Linked DNA regions of Homo sapiens: region 2 is linked to region 1. The links come from fine-mapping of genetic effects on gene expression. A gene starts in region 1. The other region holds a variant in brackets. All regions are shown on one strand. Distances are from middle to middle.

Region 1 (4,393 bases):
ATTGCTTTTGGTTTTAGGTTTTAACATTTAAATAGTTAATCCACCTTGAGTTAGATTCTGTATAAGGTGTAAGGAAGGGTCCAGTTTCGGTTTTCTTCATATGGCTAGCCAGCTTTCCCAGCACCATTTATTAAATAGGGAATCCTTTCCCCATTGCTTGTTTTTGTCAGATGTGCCAAAGATCAGGTGGTTGTAGATGCGTGGTGTTATTTCTGAGGTCTCTGTTCTGTTCTATTGATCTATATATCTGTTTTGGTACCAGTACCATGCTTTTTTGGTTACTGTAGCCTTGTAGCATAGTTTGAAGTCAGGTAGGTAGTGTGTGACACCTCCAGCTTTGTTCTCTTTGCTATTTTGTAATTACTTCAGCCACCAAGAATGATTTGCAATAATAGTTTGAGTCATGCGCTACTTTAAACAAAATGTATGGCTACAATTAGTTATTTCAGAACCAACTTGTCTAATGGATACCTAGACAGGCAACAGTAAGTTGACCCCAGCAGTCACCAAGTGTCTTCTAGCTCTTCTGCTCCAGGTCAGAGGGAAACAGGCAACACTGTTGAGGAGGATCTTTTCTCTGGTGGCATAAAAGCTTGTTGTGGATGTCCAGACTCACACATTAGCCATTTATAATTAAGGAGCTAAAGTGCATAGAAGGTAGGGGAGGAGGGTGTGTGCTGTGTCCACTGGGCTAGAACTTCACTAAGAAGGGTTTGCCTCTTCCCCTTCAGGTTCTTACCAAGCCAGATAAGTGGTTGTCATGGAGACGATACGTTGTGACAACAACTGTGGTGCCAGGTGTTCAGAGCAGCACACTGGCACCCCACTCCCAGAGAGGATGCTGAAGCAGATTGAATCACTTTAGGAGAAAAGCACACTTAGGCACGAAGCCCTGGCTTTTCTTCTTCTTTCTTCTGTGTCTATAATGTGTTTTATCTTAAATAAAACTTCATAAATGCCATAAACTATTGTGGAAATCTCCTGAGTCCCTCTGGAATTTTCATGGTTTTAGGGAACTAGAATTTTTTTTTTTTTTTTTACAAAAATCTTACTTAAAAAGGTGAATTAGAATTAACCTTTAAAATTGTAAGAATTAACTTTTAGTATTGTAAGCAAAACCCTAAAAAGGACAAGGACAACCACAAGAGGATAGTCTGTAAATGGACAGATAATTAACTTTCTCTTGTAAATTCACTGTGACAATTTTTTTTAACATTTTATATCATTTGCACCTAGCGCCCCCTGGTGGTTCTCAAAAAGGTACTATGGTGAGCGTCAATCTGACACCGGTCACCTTATATACTATTTGTGTACTCATTTGGCAGGGAATAATTTCAAAAGTTAATGCATATATTAAGTGCTTGCCTTTATGTTATTTTATCAAATTGAAATAACTATACTGAGAAATTCTGAATTGTTAACTTTAATTTTCTAGATCTTCTGGAAATACATTGAGAGAATGAAACCTAGTTCTTCCTATAAAAGTCAATTAATATTAACATTTGATACGGCAATTTATTGTTGGTAACAATGCAAAATAATATTTATTAACTGTCATTGGATGGGTTCAGGTTAAAAAACCACCTAGCAACCAGTGCGACACACCTGCGTTCTCATTTACCTGATGCAGTATGAAGACACAGAGATCCCTTTCCATAAGACAGCAAATTTCCAAATGTCACTTGTAAGTGGCAGAAGTAAAAGCATGCATTGAAAAAGAATAAGACTTGCCCTCATGTCAAATTGTGGCCCAGGATATGAACGTTGCTGATGGTGTCACAATCAGCTGATTAGCCATTTCAGGCACTATTATGTTTGAAGTACGCCCTGATTGTTGGAGCATTAACTTTGGTATTGAGATGCTAAGCGCTTCTTTTATCTCCTTCACTGAGAATAAGCAACGATAGAGGAATATTTTAATCTATAAAGGAGGAGAAGGAGGAAAGGTTGGGGACGGGAAGGAGGATCCGAGGATGTAGAAGGGGACGGAAAAGAAAGTAATTTGCTCTTTATGACGGCTTTGATGCATACATTAATAGCTTTAGATTCTTCCTAAGCTCTTTAGAATAAAATAAAATGAACTTCCTCACCTTTTTCCTAATGTTATATCAATAACTCTGGCAAACCGTTTTGCCAGGGAATAAAATGTAAATATTGGTGGAAATCCACTCATCGGGGCTCGCTCATACAGTTAAAAAAAAAAAAAGTTCACAACAGCATCTTAAAAGTAGGGTTCCACAGAGTCGTGAACATTCACAGCACCTAATAAACCAGCGGCACGGAGATTACGAGCTGCTAAATGGCAAGGATTAGAAGCCCCCACCTCACGGACTTACCGCCCTTTTCCATCCAGCCCGGCCGCTCCGCGGGTGGAGGAGGACGCGGGACGCTCGGGCTCCCAGGCGCTGCCGCTGCGGGTCCCATGGCGCACGCAGGTGCCTGCGGAAAACAGCGGCGACATCGCGGTGAGACGGCGGGGTCCGCGGGAGAGGAGCCGCGGGGGACTCGCCTCCAGCTGTCCGGACCCGCGGTTTCCGCGCTGGTGGGAGCGCCCGGGACTCACCTGCTCGGCCACCTGCGCCAACAGCATCCACAGCGCCGCCAAGCCCCGCCATCCGCGCGCGCGGGGCTTCATCCAGGAGCGCTCCGAGGGGCTAGGGGCCACCGGAGGGTCCCCGGCCGGCAGCGTGCGAGCGGGCAGGGAGGACCCGACCCAGGCAGAGCGCGGGAGGATTCCCCACAGCGACTCCGCCGCCGCGCCGGGGTTATTACTGAAGCTCCGTGCGGCGCGGGGGGCGGAGTGGCAGCCGCGGCGGCGGGGGCGGCGGGAGCGGTGGGAGAGCGCGGGGCGGGCAGGGGAGAGAGGAGGGGAGGAGGTGAGGGCGGGGGGGTCAGAGGACCGAGGAGGGGAGAGTGCAGGGACAAAGAGCAGAGGGGAGGAGGCGAGGTCAGCGGGGCGCTGAGGCGGAGGCGAGCGGGGAGCAGAGGGAAGGCGGGAGACAGCGGGCAGCGCCAGAGGAGGAGGACGCGGGAAGATGGAGCTGCCCACGGCCTGCAGTCCGTGCCTCTCTGCCCGCGCGGGGACCACACAGTTGGAGAGGCTGCCGGGCACCGGCGCGGGCGATGCTCAGCATGGACCTCCGGCCGGTGCGCGCTCCTGCCCTGCCTTGGGGCTGGGGACTCGGCGGGACTCCAGCTACTGCAGTGGCTCCGCGGGCTCCCACCTCCGGGCCGCACCGGCGCCGCCAGAGGCCGGGACACCTGCAGCCCGCGGAGTGCGGTCTGGCCGCGCCTCTGTGCCCGGGCACAGCTGTGGGGACACTGGGTGCGGAAAACCGGGCGCCAGGACGTGGGAGAGCCGCGGACCTGCCTTTAAAGGCGCGTGCCTCGCTCTGGAGTTTGCGGAGCGATCGGAGACGGGGAGGCTGAGGAGGAAACTCTTCCCCCGCGCCATTTGCCCCGAGATGTGGCGGCGCTCCTGGCCCCGCGGTCACGGCCACCCTCAACTGGCCAGGCCGCGGAGGCCGGTGACTGGCTGCTGGGTGCAATCCCTAGGGAGGTCTCAGGGCTGCGGATGGGCCTGGGTCTCGGCCGCCACGGGGGTCGATCGGGCTACTGTGTGGACAGGGTGGCCAAGGAGGCAGCAGGTGTGCGGTCAACAGCCTGGCCAGAATTCTGCTGTAGCTGGATGGGGTGTGTGAGCGCGCGGGTGTACATGTGCCTGGGTGTGCGCGGGTGTACATCCACACCTGACTGCGTGTGCGCGAGTACACGCTGTGAGCCCATAGTGTGTCTGGAATTGGTGGGTTCTTGGTCTCACTGACTTCAAGAATGAAGCCGCATACCCTCGCGGTGAGTGGGTACAGCTCTTAAGGTGGTGCGTCTGGAGTTTGTTACTTCTGATGTTCAGATGTGTTCGGAGTTTCTTCCTTCTGGTGGGTTCGTGGTCTCGCTGGCTCAGGATTGAAGCTGCAGACCTAGGCGGTGAGTGTTACAGCTCTTAAGGCAGAGCCTCTGGAGTTGTTCGTTCTTCCCGGTGGGCTCGTGGTCTCGCTGGGCTCAGGAGTGAAGCTGCAGATCTTCACGGTGAGTGTTACAGCTCATGAAAGCAGAGTGGACCCAAAGAGTGAGCAGTAGGCCGGGCGCGGTGGCTCACGCCTGTAATCCCAGCACTTTGGGAGGCCGAGGCGGGCGGATCACGAGGTCAGGAGATCGAGACCATCCCGGCTAAAACGGTGAAACCCCGTCTCTACTAAAAATACAAAAAATTAGCCGGGCGTAGTGGCGGGCGCCTGTAGTCCCAGCTACTTGGGAGGCTGAGGCAGGAGAATGGCGTGAACCCGGGAGGCGGAGCTTGCAGTGAGCCGAGATCCCGCCACTGCACTCCAGCCTG
Region 2 (4,393 bases), 77 kb before region 1:
GCGGATCACGAGGTCAGGAGATCGAGATCATCCTGGCTAACACAGTGAAACCCGTCTCTACTAAAAATATAAAAAATTAGCCAGGCGTGGTGGCGGGTGCCTGTAGTCCCAGCTACTCGGGAGGCTGAGTCAGGAGAATGGCGTGAACCTGGAAGTTAGAGGTCGCAGTGAGCCGAGATGGCACCACTGTACTCTAGACTGGGTGACAGAGTGAGACTCCATCTCAAAAAAAAAAAAAAAAAAAAAGTTAAATTATTTTACTATGTTCCTTATCATTATCTGGTACAGTGCTTGCTACTCGTCTTTCAATAAATGCTTTCTGGGCACATGGAACATGTAGTCATTTGCTCCTGTGAAAACCAGTGACAGAGGACCAGGAAAGCTTTACGTACAATAACATTAGCAAGAATCAGGAAATCGTGATCATAAAAAGCCAAAGATGACTTAAGATGACCATGATTCAGACTACCATTCAGAGTAACTTCAGAATATTCTTAGGTTTTAGTTTTGGGGAGCATTTTGCAGAATAAATACTGATGATGATATTGTTAAAGGTTTGGGCTTTCAACTTTTTAAAGTATAAAGCCTTCAAATATAGGATGCTGGTGACAGCTCACTGCCAAGTCATGTGGCTCTCTAATTCAGTCTGTGATTCGGCTCATGCCATCTGTGTTTTTCAGCCTCATTTTGGGACCTGCTCAATCCCCAACTCCAGTCCTCAAGGCTGGAATAAATCACAAAGTTAGAAGAAACTGACGATCATATAACCCACGGTATTGTCTTTCAACACTTAAAACATAATTTGGGACCTTGGTATCCTGTAGATGTACTTGTCTGCCATTTAATAAACATGACACTCTGTCCCATACAAACGAATAAAAACTATAGTGTCTTAAAGAGTTGCGATGACAAAATAAAAATATTGTACATTCTCATTCACACGTGGAAGTGAAAAAATGGATTTTGTAGTGGTGGAATGATAGTTACCGGAGGCTGAGAAGTGTAGTGGAGGGGGATGGGAGGAATAAAGAGGAGTTGGTTAATGGGTTCAAAAATACAGTTAGATAAAAGGAATAACACCTAATGTTTAGTAGGGCCATAGGGTGACGATAGTTAACAACAATTTATTGTATATTTCAAGATAACTAGAAGAGTGTGATGTTCTTTACACAAATAAATGATGAACATTTAAGGTGAAGGATATCCCAGTTTCTCTGCTTTGAATATTACACATTGTACGCCTGTATTGATATGGGAGGGGGCAGGGAGTTGCTGAGTAGAGAAGGGGGGGTCCCTGGAGAGGGCTCCACACTCAGGCCTGTACCACAGACCTAAGTGAGAACAGACACTCCTGTTTTCATGCCCAAATGTCGCATTTTCCAAGACTACTCTGGCCTGCCACGCCCCCGATCCTGTGCCCGTGGAAACCTGAGACCTTAATGGGCACACACAGTGGCTGAACGTGGTCAAGAGAAGCAGAGGAACAGACCAGCAGACACCAGCAGACCGGCAGACCAGTGACGGTGGAAAGATGAATGACGTGGCAGAGGAAGAGAGGAGGGATGTCTGGATGCTAAGGGGAATTCAGCTGGGGGCAGCCAGAGAAGGGTCTGGCCACTGGGCAGCCTGACTCCAGGGGAAGACCACCTTCCCACTCCATCCTGCTCTTCTGATTCCCCATCCACCTTGCTGAGAGCCACCTCCACTACTCAATAAAACCTCGCACTCATCTTTGAGGCCACAGGGGTGACCCAGTTTTTCCAGT[A/G]CACTGGGAAAGAGCTTAGGATACAGAAAGCTGTCACACTGGCCCTCTGCCCTTGGAATAAGGCACAGGGTCTATTGAACTGGTTAACACAAGCCATCCACAGATGGAGAAGCTGAAGGAGCACACCGTAACACATGCTCACTTGGGCTTTGGGAGTTGCAGACACCCACTCCTAGAGGCTGCCGTGGGGCCGGAGCCCAAGAGTGCTCCCCACAGTCTCTGTACCTGCCTGTCTGCGTGCTCCCACTAGGGGTTTGAGCAGAGGGGTGACAGAAGGAGCGAGCCACACCCCTGTCTCATGTCCTGCAAGGGGGAAAATGGAACTCTTCTGTTTCAGTATCGATGTATTACAAGCACCCCATAAATATGTGCAACCATTCTGTATCCATAAACATTAAATAGAAAAAGTTAAAAAAAGAAAAGTAAACTACAAATGAGCAGCCAAAAACCAATTGTCCTGTCCAACTTTATCACTTTGACTTAACTGCTAACTTTATGGTACATAACATACCATGGTTTTATTAAAGCACTATTGTTGTAGGTCATTATATCCTTAATGAAACTTCAGAGTCTTCTTGGAACAAAGATCCTATTAAATCACGGTTCTAGAGTCCAGGCAGTTGGAATGTAAGACTTGCTGGGTTTTGGGGTTACTCCCAATTTAACAACAGTACCTAGGATGCTGAGGTGATCAAATTTCAAAGCAATTCTGGCGGCTTATGTTTCAGATTGCAGGGTCAGGCCACCAAAGCAATGATGATAAAGCATGATAGGTACACGATGAAGACAAAATGTTTTTAATAACAAATACCTAACTTGGGCAGAAAAGAGTCAAAACCTACGCAGAGTATTTACTCTTGCTTTATCTTTGTAGCTAAGGTATACTATCTTTAATGAAGCCTCTCTCTTTTTATTCTAGTCCATAATTTAAGAGTTATGTTCACAAAAACCAATTTCAGTAATACCAACTTGGTTAAGGTTTAACACCACAACATAACACCCCAGGTAAAACCAACATTTTCAGATGGCTGGGCTGAAACTGCATTGTGGTGCTTCAATATTGTGAATGGCACACTACCAGATTCACTTCCTCAAATTGTCTGTACTACACTCTTCAACTTGAGTCGGATTACAGACTCAAACCTAAGACCTGAAACTATAAAAATTCTAGAAGATAACATTGGACAAACCCTTCTAGACACTGGCTTAGAAAAGAATTTCATGACCTGTTCACTCTGATGGTAGTTTCTTTTGCTGTGCAGAAGCTCTTTAGTTTAATTAGATCCCATTTGTCAATTTTGTCTTTTGTTGCCATTGCTTTTGGTGTTTTAGACATGAAGTCCTTGCCCATGCCTATGTCCTGAATGGTAATGCCTAGGTTTTCTTCTAGGGTTTTTATGGTTTTAGGTCTAATGTTTAAGTCTTTAATCCATCTTGAATTGATTTTTGTATAAGGTGTAAGGAAGGGATCCAGTTTCAGCTTTCTACATATGGCTAGCCAGTTTTCCCAGCACCATTTATTAAATAGGGAATCCTTTCCCCATTGCTTGTTTTTCTCAGTTTGTCAAAGTATGTTTATTGCGGCATTATTCACAATAGCAAAGACTTGGAACCAACCCAAATGTCCAACAATGATAGACTGGATTAAGAATATGTGGCACATATACACCATGGAATACTATGCAGCCATAAAAAATGATGAGTTCATGTCCTTTGTAGGGACATGGATGAAATTGGAAATCGTCATTCTCAGTAAACTATCGCAAGAACAAAAAACCAAACACCGCATATTCTCACTCATAGGTGGGAATTGAACAATGAGATCACATGGACACAGGAAGGGGAATATCACACTCTGGGGACGGTTGTGGGGTGGGGGGAGGGGGGAGGGATAGCATCGGGAGATATACCTAATGCTAGATGACGAGTTAGTGGGTGCAGCGCACCAGCATGGCACATGTATACATATGTAACTAACCTGCACAATGTGCACATGTACCCTAAAACTTAAAGTATAATAAAAAAAAATAGAAAAAAAAAAAGAATTTCATGACCAAGAACCCAAAAGCAAATGCAATAAAAACAAAGATAAATAGCTGGGACCTAATTAAACTAAAGAGCTTTCACGTGGCAAAAGAAACAGTCAGCAGAGTAAACAGACAATCCACAGTGTGAGAGAAAATCTTAACAATCTATACGTCTGACAAAAGACTAATATCCAGGATCTACAATGAACTCAAACAAATCAGTAAGAAAAAAAAAATGGGCTAAGGACATGAATAGACAATTCTCAAAAGAAGATATACAAATGGCCAACAAACATATGAAAAACTGCTCAACATCACTAATGATCAGGGAAATGCAAATCAAAATCACAATGCAATACCACTTACTCCTGCAAGAATGGCCATAACTAAAAAATCAAAAAACAGTAGATGTTTGTGTGTGGATGTGGTAAACAGGGAACGCTTCTACACTGCTGGTGGGAATGTAAACCAGTAAAGCCACTATGGAAAAAAGTGTGGAGATTCCTTAAAGAACTAAAAGTAGAACTACCATTTGATCCAGCAATCCCACTACTGGGTATCTACCCAGAGGAAAATAAGTCATTATTCAAAAAAGATACTT

Which allele goes with the higher level. Positions count from the first base shown, and alleles are read on the strand shown. Sizes are in standard deviations (SD) of each study's normalised expression.
For the expression in cerebellum of the gene that starts at base 2,773 in region 1, allele A in region 2 goes with a higher level than allele G (moderate effect, 0.74 SD a copy in GTEx).

Evidence for each region. PIP is the estimated chance that this variant, and not a neighbour inherited with it, causes the effect.
Region 2: its variant is the best candidate, but not a certain one, in a credible set for the expression of ADAMTS16 in cerebellum (GTEx, PIP 0.89).

What each region holds. Positions count from the first base shown.
Region 1 is chr5:5,138,710-5,143,102 of GRCh38, reverse strand. ADAMTS16 (ADAM metallopeptidase with thrombospondin type 1 motif 16) reads right to left here and starts at 2,773. Exons shown (of 23, transcript NM_139056.4): 1 at 2,564-2,773; 2 at 2,337-2,439. The coding sequence starts at 2,635. It overlaps ADAMTS16-DT (ADAMTS16 divergent transcript), which reads left to right and starts at 3,049. Exons shown (of 4, transcript NR_109915.1): 1 at 3,049-3,147. ADAMTS16-AS1 (ADAMTS16 antisense RNA 1) reads left to right here. Exons shown (of 2, transcript NR_198969.1): 2 at 732-965. RefSeq lists an enhancer at 3,001-3,567.
Region 2 is chr5:5,216,010-5,220,402 of GRCh38, reverse strand. All of the region lies in intron 10 of ADAMTS16 (ADAM metallopeptidase with thrombospondin type 1 motif 16), which reads right to left. Among named protein-coding and RNA genes, the nearest start is that of ADAMTS16-AS1, 42 kb to the right of the region's middle. The variant A/G (reference allele first, on the strand shown) is at 1,766.